Linked DNA regions of Homo sapiens: regions 1, 2 and 3 are each linked to region 4. Evidence: fine-mapped expression QTL. A gene starts in region 4. Each other region holds a variant in brackets. All regions are shown on one strand. Distances are from middle to middle. Region 1 overlaps NIPA1 (NIPA magnesium transporter 1). Region 2 overlaps NIPA1 (NIPA magnesium transporter 1). Region 3 overlaps NIPA1 (NIPA magnesium transporter 1). Region 4 holds the start of NIPA1 (NIPA magnesium transporter 1).

Region 1 (2,500 bases), 35 kb before region 4:
GTTTTTTTGAGATGGAGTTTTGCTCTTTGTTGCCCAGGCTGGATTGCAATAGCACGATCTCTGCTCACTGCAACCTCCACCTCCCAGGTTCAAGCGATTCTCCTGCTTCAGCCTCCTGAGTAGCTGGGAATACATAAGCACCCGCCACCACGCCTGGCTATTATATTTTTAGCAGAGACGGGGTTTCGCCATGTTGGCCAGGCTGGTCTCGAACTCCTGACCTTAGGTGATCCGCCGTCCTCGGCCTCCCAAAGTGTTGGGATTACAGGCGTGAGCCACTGTGCCCGGCCTAGAAACATTCTCTTAACAATACAAGTGAATGGAGATGCTCCGAGGTTTCAAAAAAGCACCTGGGAATCCAGGGGGCAGGGGTAAGGCAGGGGACAGGAGGGAGGACTTTAAGCTGTGGGGGTGTTTGTGGGTTTTGCAATGATTGGGGGCTGCATCCAGTGGGCAGAGGCATGTGCAGACAGCAACCCCCACCCCCATCAAAAATCATCCCATTCTCGTCACAACTGCTGAATGTCTCCTCGGACTTGTAACTGAAAAATATGCCTATAATAATCAGAGCCTAGAAACTATTTTATGTATGAAACAAAGTAATTTTTGCATGGATTTAATATATGCTGAATTCTTCAGACATGTCACTTCCATGTAAATTGAGGGAGGATTGTTCTTTGATCAAAACTTCATTAAGAGTTATGCTCCATCTGAGGATCATTTTGTTGATAGCAAGACCTCAAGTGTCCCAGTCAATAACATTACACCCCCACGTCAGTCTATATCTGCAGCTACCAGATTCTCAACCACTCCTCACAAGGTGTGGGGTCGGCCAGCTTCAATAGGTCTTCTCTTATAGTGGGACCTGAGCATTTACATATTGAAAGGGATGTTTTGTTTTAAAGTATTGTCCTGGTATTTCTCCTTTATATTACAGTTAGGGCATTAAATTGATGGTTTGAACTTGTGTGTATAAGGAGGTTGTGTTTTCCATGAAATCCATTCCAACATCACAAATGGACCTGAGAGGGCTGGGAACTGCTGGCTATGCAAACCAGCAAGTGTGGACATGCAAACCAGAGAGTGTGGACAAGAAAACCAGCGAGTGTGGACAAGAAAACCAGTGAGTGTGGACATGCAAACTAGGTGTTAACATGCAAACCAGCGAGTGTGGACTTGCAAACCAGGGTGTGGACATGCAAACCAGGGTGTGGACATGCAAACCAGCCAGTGTGGACAAGAAAACCAGTGAGTGTGGACAAGAAAACCAGCGAGTGTGGACATGCAGACCACCGAGTGTGGACAAAACCAGTGAGTGTGGACGAGAAAACCAGCGAGTGTGGATATGAAAACCAGGGAGTGTGGACATGCAAACCAGCGAGTATGGACATGCAAACCAGCGAGTGTGGACATGTAAACCAGCAAACTGATGTGGAGGCAGTTTTGTGCTGGAACCTGCCTAAACTTGTTGGTAAGCAACACAGGGTGGTCTACTTAAAGTGAAATCTATACTTTAAGTCTGTTGTAATCA[C/T]GTAGATAGTAGTTTTTAGTGTATTTATCAAAATAAAAAAAGGACGGGCATGGTGGCTCACGCCTGTAATCCCAGCACTTTGGAAGGGCGAGGTGGGCGGATCACGAGGTCAGGAGATCAAGACCATCCTGGCTAACATGATGAAATCCCATCTCTACTAAAAATACAAAAAAAATTAGCCGGGCATGGTGGCAGGCGCCTGTAGTCCCCGGCTACTCAGGAGGCTGAGGCAGAAGAATGGCGGAGCTCGCAGTGAGCTGAGATCGCGCCACTGCACTCCAGCCTGGGTGACAGAGCGAGACTCCGTCTCCAAAAAAAAAAAAAAGAAAAGAAAAGAAATTATGTCAAAAGATATATAAACAGGGCTATATGAGGAATCTAAACTTAAGAGATGCCAGGTCTTTGTTCTCACAGAGCTTCACGCTGGAGGGAGTGAAGTGCTGAGGTGGAGATAGAGTGGGCAGGGTACACCAGGAAAGGTATGTGGGGAGGGGCGGGTGGCAGTCAGACTTGGGAGGGTGGCCCAAGGGGAGCCACTGTGGGAAGGGAAGGCGCCCATGCACAAGGCCCCAGAAGAGAACCCGAAGGAATACCAGGCCACGGAGGCTCCCCGCAGGGCCTGAGGATCAGGCGGGAGGGTGAGGGCAGAGGGCTAGCCTGCGAGCACAGCCCACTGATGCACGTTCCCAGAGAACACAGATCTACAGTAACAGATCAGGGTGGACACACGGTTCCTCTGCCCTGCCAGGAAGCATCCAATTTGAAGACGTGGTTAAAAAAGTTGGCACTCCTACTGCAAACTTTCTTGGCAGTGCTGCTAGAAAGGAATTACCTGGATTGGTCAGCTTTTCCTCCAGCTCAGCCTGAGTTGTCACACTCTCAGACTTTGGGGAGTGGATAATCAGCACGACGGAGCCTGCACAGCTTAGCAGGCACCCCAACTTGCCCAAGATGTTGAGCTTTTCCTTC
Region 2 (2,500 bases), 21 kb before region 4:
GTCTCCCAGCCCTGAGCCACGCCCTACCTCTGCTGCCAGGCTCCACTGGAGAAGACAGCCTGGCACCACTGGGGCTCCTGTCTGGTGTCCCTCTCAGTGTATCTAATACAAACAGGACCCAGGGTGTCCTATGAAGCAGAAAGTTTAGCGAAGCTTAAGAATGTCCCATGGTGGGCACTGTAGGAGAGTCAGCTATTAATACAGAATCAATGTTAGATTTCTAAATGTGCTAATCAAAGTGGCTATCCCAAAATGCATGCCGAATACTTGAGTGAAAGGTCATCAGGTCCAGAATACTAGTGTGAAAAGTCTGTGGACCAGTTTCCCAACAAAACCACCATAACTAATAAATAAAGTACTTAACAAAGTGGGCCGGGTGCAGTGGCTCATGCCTGTAATCCCAGCACTTTGCGAGGCCGAAGTTGGTGGATCACAAGGTCAGGAGACCGAGACCATCCCGGCTAACACAGTGAAACCCCGTCTCTACTAAAAAAAATACAAAAAAAAATTAGCTGGGCATGGTGGTGGGCGCCTGTAGTCCCAGCTATTTGGGAGGCTGAGGCAGGAAAATGGCATGAACCTGGGAGGCAGAGCTTGCAGTAAGCCGAGATTGTGCCACTGCACTCCAGCCTGGGCAACAGAGAGAGACTCCATCACACACACACACACACACACAAGTGAATTTAAACTCTGTGGAAATTATCCTAAGGGCATACAGAAAATATCTCCTTTTTCATTCCTGATTTTAGTAATTTGATTCTTCTTTTTTGCTTGGTCAGTCTAGCTAAAGGTTTGTCAATTTCATTGTTCTTTTCAAAGAACCAACTTTTGATTTTGTTTTTATTGGGTTTTTAGATTTTTTTTTTCTTTTTGAGACAGGGTCTCACTCTGTTGCCCAGGCTGGGGTGTAGTGGCATGGTCTCTCAGTTCACTGCAACCTCCATCTCCCAGGTTCAAGTGATTCTCCTGCCTCAGCCTCCCAAGTAGCTGGGATTACAGGCGTGGGCCACCACATCCAGCTGTCCTTTTATTGTAATGAACATGGTTTGGTCAGGACGTTT[T/C]GTGAAGTCATGGGATTCCTGCTACAGCAGCTGGACTGTGTGACCCTCCTACAGTGAAAGCTGGTCAAGGATGACAGTGACCAGTGCAATGAGGCCCATAGGCACCCCCCTTTCACTGCTATGGTTATCCCAACATTGATCATCACATAGTATATGTTTTTGGCAGTTTATAAAATGTCAAAAGTCACAAAATGAGGAGGAACCTGGAATACCAGGTACACAGGAATGGCAAAGTGAACAAAATGGTTTTTGTTCTTTTCCCAAAGGGTCCAGTTCAGTTCCAAGCATTTCAGGCCCTGCAACTTGTACTCTCCATCAAGAGCCTGGATTTGCACAAATCAAAAGGTGTATAGGTCACCCTCACCTTTTAAACCAGTATTAGGCAAAATTTTTCTGCATCCACAGACATTAAGCAAGTCAGGTTTTTCTCCATCCAGGTACCTGTCCCATACCCCTACCCATAAACAAAAGTGAAGCTCCTGCACATGGTCCCTGAGAGCCTCGGTCCAGGGGTGTCCCCTGTTCTGCCCTGCAGGAAGTGCATGGCTGTGTGCCCAGCTTCCTCACTGAGTTGGCTGCTCCATTTTCCCTCCTCCTTCTTTTGCCAGGAGCTCCTAGGAGTCTGCATTCCATATTAGCCCTTGGCCCGTCATACAGATATCTGTGAGGATATCTAAAACAACTGGGTTTCTTCACAGTTTCACCCTAAGCATTGCTGCCCCTAAGCACTGTTGTTCCGAAAGCTCATTAGCCAGCACTCTCAGTAGGTATCTATGCCCAAGCTTCTCCTCTTCCCAGTTGATGACGGTCCTCTATTAATCTGCAGGTCCTCCGGCCTCAGCAACAACAGGGAGCTGCAGCACTGAAGGATGCAGAGGATGCTGTTTGTCTTGCCACACTCACGTCTCCTCCCCCACTCCTAGGTGTGGGCTGCAGAGGATATGATCGCTAAGTTCCATTGGTTTTCCTCTCATTGGAAACCCTGGGTGCTGAGAGTTGCATAGCTGTTTATAACAGCTAAACTATAAAACAAAGAAGTGTTTGTGCAAACACAAAAGAGCCTTGCCAGGATGACAGTATCAACTGACAGTGATGCTGTCCAACCAGGGGCATGTGGCTTTAGACCTTCCATTTAGTTATAAATGTGTCGGAAATGTCCTTAAAATACAGCTTTAGGCCGGGCGCGGTGGCTCACGCCTGTAATCCCGGCACTTTGGGAGGCCGAGGCGGGCGGATCACAAGGTCAGGAGATCAAGACCATCCTGGCTAACACGGTGAAACCCCGTCTCTGCTAAAAATACAAAAAATTAGCTGGGCGTGGTGGCGGGCGCCTGTAGTCCCAGCTATTCGGGAGGCTGAGGCAGGAGAATGGTGTGAACCCAGAAGGCGGAGCTTGCAGTGAGCCGAGATCGCGCCACTGCACTCCAGCCTGGGCGACA
Region 3 (2,500 bases), 26 kb before region 4:
ATTAAAATTTAAAAAGAAGCCTGCGCACACACTGGGTCCCTGGAGTCCTCAGTTCCCAGAGTCCTCAGTCCCTTGGCATGGGCAAAAACTTCACTCCATGCCAGCCCGGCCTAAGCATGCAAACCGCCCCCCAGCCCACCCCACCACCTAACTACAATAAAAATCCAAAGGTCCCCCTCACTCGTCTCACTCAGAACCAAACCCGGGACCTTCTCCTAAGAAAATCCATGTGCTATTGACTGCGTCAGTCATAAATCCTATTTCACATCCATTGATGCCGTGTATTATTCATCCCAACCTCTGTAATTTCCTGGGCTGAGGTGGGGACTGTCCGGCATCCAGCAAGGAATGCTAAGCACCCCAATAAAACACCAACTCAGTCATTTTGCTTAATGAGTTCTCAGAATAACTTGCCAAGGTGTCAGAAGACTCTCTAGTCTCTAAGATGTACTCCAGGACAACGACCAGGAGAATGAGAGCATCAGATTCACTGATAAGCAGGAAAAATGAGTGACAGTTTCAAATATACTAAATATCTAAGAAAAGGGTTAATACTACCCAGAACTACATTTGAAGGGATAAAATTAAACGATATAGAGTAGAATACTGAAGATCTATCTTCTTTTTTTTTTTTAAGGCAGAGTCTCGCTCTGTCTCCCAGGCTGGAGTGCTGTGGTGCCATCTCAACTCACTGCAACCTCTGCCCCCCAGGTTCAAGCAATTCTTGTGTCTCACCCTCCCGAGTAGCTAGGACTACAGGTGGTCGCCACCATGTCCAGCTAATTTTTCATATTGTTAGTAGAGACAGGGTTTCACCATGTTGGCCAGGCTGGTCTTGAACTCGTGACCTCAAATAATTCACCCTCCTTGGCCTCCCAAAGTGCTGGGATTACAGGCGTAAGCCACCATGCCCGGCCTGAAGATCTATCTTCTATTACAATTTTGCTCTTATTACTTTAACAGAAACATTTAAAATGAAAAGTTGTTATATCTACACTACACATTAAATACCAAACACAATCTTGGCTCTCACCCGAACGGTACTCCAAGGGCGCCCAGGGGGGTTACCAGGACCGTGGGGACCGCCGTGTAAGCCAGGAAGTTTCCAATCTGGCCAACAGCCACTGTCAAGAAAATCACAAGGATACTACTTGCAATTACAGAGCTCTCTTCCAGCACTGATCACAGTTGAATTACGCTAGGCTCTGCCCTGAAAGGGCTACTTCATTCACATTACTTGTGAAGAATCACATCTGGGGTGTCATCTGCACATTTAAGGGGTCAGGGGTCAGGAACCACACCTTCACTGGTCCCATCAGTCGGGTGAGTAGGTTCAGCCCTCCATGGAAATGCCGAACCTAACCAGCAGTGACTGAAATGGGCGCAGCACTGGGCATATCTCCGCTCTCTTAACACATCCTTGTTTTCACACAAATCAGGCAGAACTTCCTGTGCACCCTCT[A/G]GTGGCCTGGGACCTACTCTGGCATAGGCAGCTGGCCACGGTGACAGGCCACTGGCATAGCAAGAGGATACAGTACTGCCGCACAAGACTGCAGCAGGGACATCACCCAGATGGAGCTTAAAGAGGAGCTCTTCAAGGAACAGAATTGGTATTGCCACGTAATGTCGTATTAAAAGACAAATGTGACAAACAAAGTACATGATGTTTCTTTTTTTTCTTTTGAGACAGAGTCTCACTCTGTCAGCCAGGCTGGAGTGCACTGGCGTGATCTTGGCTCACTGCAGCCTCCACCTCCCAGGCTCAAGCAATCCTCCCACCTCAGCCTCCAAATAGCTTTGAAAACAGGTGCATCCCACCATGCCCAGGTAATTTTTGTTTTTGTACAGACAGGGTTTTGCCATGTTTCCCAGGCTGGTCTTGAACTCCTGGGCTCAAACAATCCACCTGTCTCAGCCTCCCAAAGTGCTGGGATTACAGGCGTGAGCCACCATGCCTGGCCAAACATAATATTTCTGAATTTCAAAGACAATTGTCCTTTATAATACATTTAGAGTTCTGAACTCTAATATTATTATTTATCTTTACATTATAGCACATGACCTGATCTTTGACTCATGAAATTCTCTGTTAAACCAACTGTGCTGAGAAAAACAAGGCAGCCTAACATGGAATTTCACCAAATGCCAACAGCCCGACTACATGAGTAAGCAGGAGCTGTTTTAATTTCTTCGGGCCCAGGACAGATCAGCCTGGACTGAATTCACGGCTAATCGTGGGCAGCAGGGGCCTCCACCAGCTCCTAACTTGTCCTTCTGCACTCTCATCCTGGGAGGAAGGGGAGCAGGGAGAGTGCCCTGGGGAGGCAGGGACATCCGAACTGAAAGGCACGCTTAGGGCCTGGGGAGAGGCCACGCGACACCCTCTTCCAAAGAACAGAGCCACCCTAGCCCAGCCACTCCAGCCCTGCCCAGACCAGTGATGGATTCTAAGAAAGGAAAAGACCAGACTTCGCCACACAGGCTACTTACTTGCGATTGT
Region 4 (2,758 bases):
CAACCCAAGAGTCGGGGGCCACATCCTTCCCAGAGAGCTCTTAATATTCTTCTTCTAAGAGTATGGCCAAGAACCACAAGACTTTCTCAGTCCCTCTGGAAGCAATGGAAACGGACTGTTTCACAGCCTGCCATATCCTGCATTGGCAAACCGGTCCCGTCCGGGGCCTCCCAGCACAAACGACACTGACAGAGAGCTCTACCCCGCAGAGCACTACGGAGTGCGGTGCTGCGGCACATCCACCTGGGAAGTGGCCTTGGCCCGTCCAGGGCTTGGTTTTGGATCTGCCGCGCGTGTTCTCCAAACTGAAGATCACTTGTATTCATTTGGTGCAGGTCTAAGGCGCAGCGGGCTCCGTAAGAGCACCCCAGGAACGCACAGCCCTGAGAGCCCGCCCGGGTCTTCCTTTTGCACCAGCGAGGCCCCTGCGGGGGACTGGAAATCCCAGGTCTTGCTCTACCGAGCGTACCCTAGGAGCGGGCCGCGCATCGGCTGAAGCGGCGCTTCCAGGCGGGCGCTGGGCTCGAGCACCCCAGCACCGCGTCCGCAGGAGGCTCCCGGCCGCGGGTTGCGGGCCACGGCGAGGGCTGCCGGGCGGCGCGGGGCAGGTCTTGGACCGAGGGAAAAAGTCAGCCGGGGAAGCCCGCACACCAAAGCAAGCCGCTCCAGCCGCTGAGAACGGAGAAAAGCCGTGGCGTCGGCGAAGCGCCGGACGCTCAGGACGCACCTGTGATTCCTGGGCCGCTCCCGGGCCCGAGCGCCAGGACGCGGCGGCAGCCTGGGCACGCCGCGGGGAGCACCCGCCCGCGCAGCCTTCCCCCAACCTGGGCCCGGGCCCCGACCCCGTCCCCTGCCCCGACCCGGGCGCCCCCACCTGCGACCGCCTTCTCCGCCGCCCGCCTCCCCCACCCGCCCGCCGCCTGCCGCCTGCCGCCCGCCCTACCTCGCCGCTTGGCACGCACGATGCCCTTCTTCTGTAGCACGAACGTGGACCCGTTCACCAGGCTCGACACGACGGCCACGCCCAGGCCGAGCGACACGGCGGCGGGGCTCGGGCTACGCGCCCCCTCCCCGGCCGCCGCCGCCGCCGCCGCCGCCGCTGCCGCAGCTGCAGTCCCCATTCCGCCCGCGCCCGCCCTCCGAGCCTGCGCCTGCGCGCCGCGCCCCGCGGGGCGGGATGGGGGGTGACCGGGAGGCGCGGGCGGGGGAGGGGAGGGGGACGGGTGGGGGAGGAGCAGGAAGAGGGGCGGGGGCGGGACGGGGGTGCCAGGGACCGGCGCCTTAGGCTGCGGGGACAGCAGTGGCGCCGGACGCGGCGGCAGTGAGGGGCCGGTGAGGCGCTGGGTGGGGCGGGGGTTCCCGGATTTCGCAAATGGAAATGCAGGACTCCTGGTTAAGTTTCCAGCGCGGAGAAACACGCATACTTTCTGAGTGGTGTCCTCTGCAATATCCGGGCAGCGGAGCGCGGCAGGACGCACCGGCGGGCAGCGGTCCCCGAAGAGCCTCCAGCGGAGGCCGGCCCAACTCACCGGAGCGCGAAGCCCGGCGCGCCGCTGCAGAGATCGAAGGAGAGCCCTGGCGCTGGGCGTTTCTCTTCCGCCCTTGGCGCTAGAGTCAGCTACATGGGGCTCTGGGCTTGTGATCCCATAGTCTAGTTTCCTCGTTTTAATAAACTACAACAAGCCGGGCGCGGTGGCTCACGCCTGTAATCCCAGCACTTCGGGAGGCCGAGGCGGGTGGATCACAAGGTCAGGAGATCGAGACCATCCTGGCTAACACAGTGAAACCCCGTCTCTACTAAAAATACAAAAAATTAGCTGGGCGTCGTGGCGGAGGCCTGTAGTCCCAGCTACTCGGGAGGCTGAGCCAGGAGAAGGGTGTGAACCCGGGAGGCAGAGCTTGCAGTGAGCGGAGATCACACAACTGCACTCGAGCCTGGGCGACAGAGCGAGACTCCGTCTCAAAAAAAAAAAAAAAAAGAAACAACAACAAAATTACAAGCTTGAAAAATAGGAAAAAGTTATTTTATTTTTTTTGGAAAAAAATATTTTTTAAAGTGACTCAATTCCACAACCCTCACCTAATTATTAGTATTTTAGGTGTTTTCCCATAATGTATACATACTTTTACATGTTTCCAATTACAATATACGAAATTTCCTTTTTATTTAATATATATCAGTTTCTGTATCGGTACATAAATATGATTATTCTAATGACAGTATAATAATTTGTCTAACCATTCAGCCATTGTTGGGTGTTAGGTAGCTACCAGGTTGGTTTGTTTTTTTGAGACAGAGTCTCGCTCTGTCGCCCAGGCTGGAGTGCAATGGCGCGATCTCGGCTCACTGCAACCTTCCGCCTCCCGGATTCAAGCGATTCTCGGCCTCAGCCTCCGAGTATCTAGAATTACAGGCGTCCGCCACCACGCCCGGGTTAATTTTTGTATTTTGAGTAGAGACGCGGTTTCACCATCTTGGCAAGGCTGGTCTTGAACTCCTGACCTCAGGTGATCCGTCCGCTCTACCTCCCAAAGTGCTGGGATTACAGGCGTGAACCACCGCGCCTGGCCGGTTGCTGCCAGGTTTTGTTGTCTATAAACGATGCTACAAGCTGGGCACAGTGGCTCACACCTATAATCCCAGCACTTTGGGGACCGAGGTGGGAGGCTCGCTTGAGCTCAGACGTTCAAGACCAGCCTGGGCAACGTAGCGAGACCCGTCTCTACCAAAAAAAGAAAAAAATTAATTAGCGGGGCG

What was found. PIP is the estimated chance that this variant, and not a neighbour inherited with it, causes the effect. A credible set is the group of variants that fine-mapping cannot tell apart.
Region 1: its variant is the best candidate, but not a certain one, in a credible set for the expression of NIPA1 in blood mononuclear cells (TOPMed, PIP 0.77).
Region 2: its variant is the best candidate, but not a certain one, in a credible set for the expression of NIPA1 in blood mononuclear cells (TOPMed, PIP 0.50).
Region 3: its variant is the best candidate, but not a certain one, in a credible set for the expression of NIPA1 in hippocampus (GTEx, PIP 0.62).

What each region holds. Positions count from the first base shown.
Region 1 is chr15:22,820,337-22,822,836 of GRCh38, reverse strand. NIPA1 (NIPA magnesium transporter 1) reads right to left here. Exons shown (of 5, transcript NM_144599.5): 4 at 2,364-2,500. Among named protein-coding and RNA genes, the nearest start is that of NIPA2, 17 kb to the left of the region's middle. The variant C/T (reference allele first, on the strand shown) is at 1,532.
Region 2 is chr15:22,805,959-22,808,458 of GRCh38, reverse strand. The region is part of intron 1 of NIPA1 (NIPA magnesium transporter 1); the gene reads right to left. Among named protein-coding and RNA genes, the nearest start is that of NIPA1, 21 kb to the right of the region's middle. The variant T/C (reference allele first, on the strand shown) is at 1,062.
Region 3 is chr15:22,810,787-22,813,286 of GRCh38, reverse strand. It overlaps NIPA1 (NIPA magnesium transporter 1), which reads right to left. Exons shown (of 5, transcript NM_144599.5): 2 at 2,491-2,500; 3 at 1,034-1,124. Among named protein-coding and RNA genes, the nearest start is that of NIPA1, 25 kb to the right of the region's middle. The variant A/G (reference allele first, on the strand shown) is at 1,463.
Region 4 is chr15:22,785,020-22,787,777 of GRCh38, reverse strand. It overlaps NIPA1 (NIPA magnesium transporter 1), which reads right to left and starts at 1,134. Exons shown (of 5, transcript NM_144599.5): 1 at 944-1,134. The coding sequence starts at 1,121. RefSeq lists an enhancer at 87-196 and silencers at 547-676, 687-836, 907-1,266, 1,229-1,462.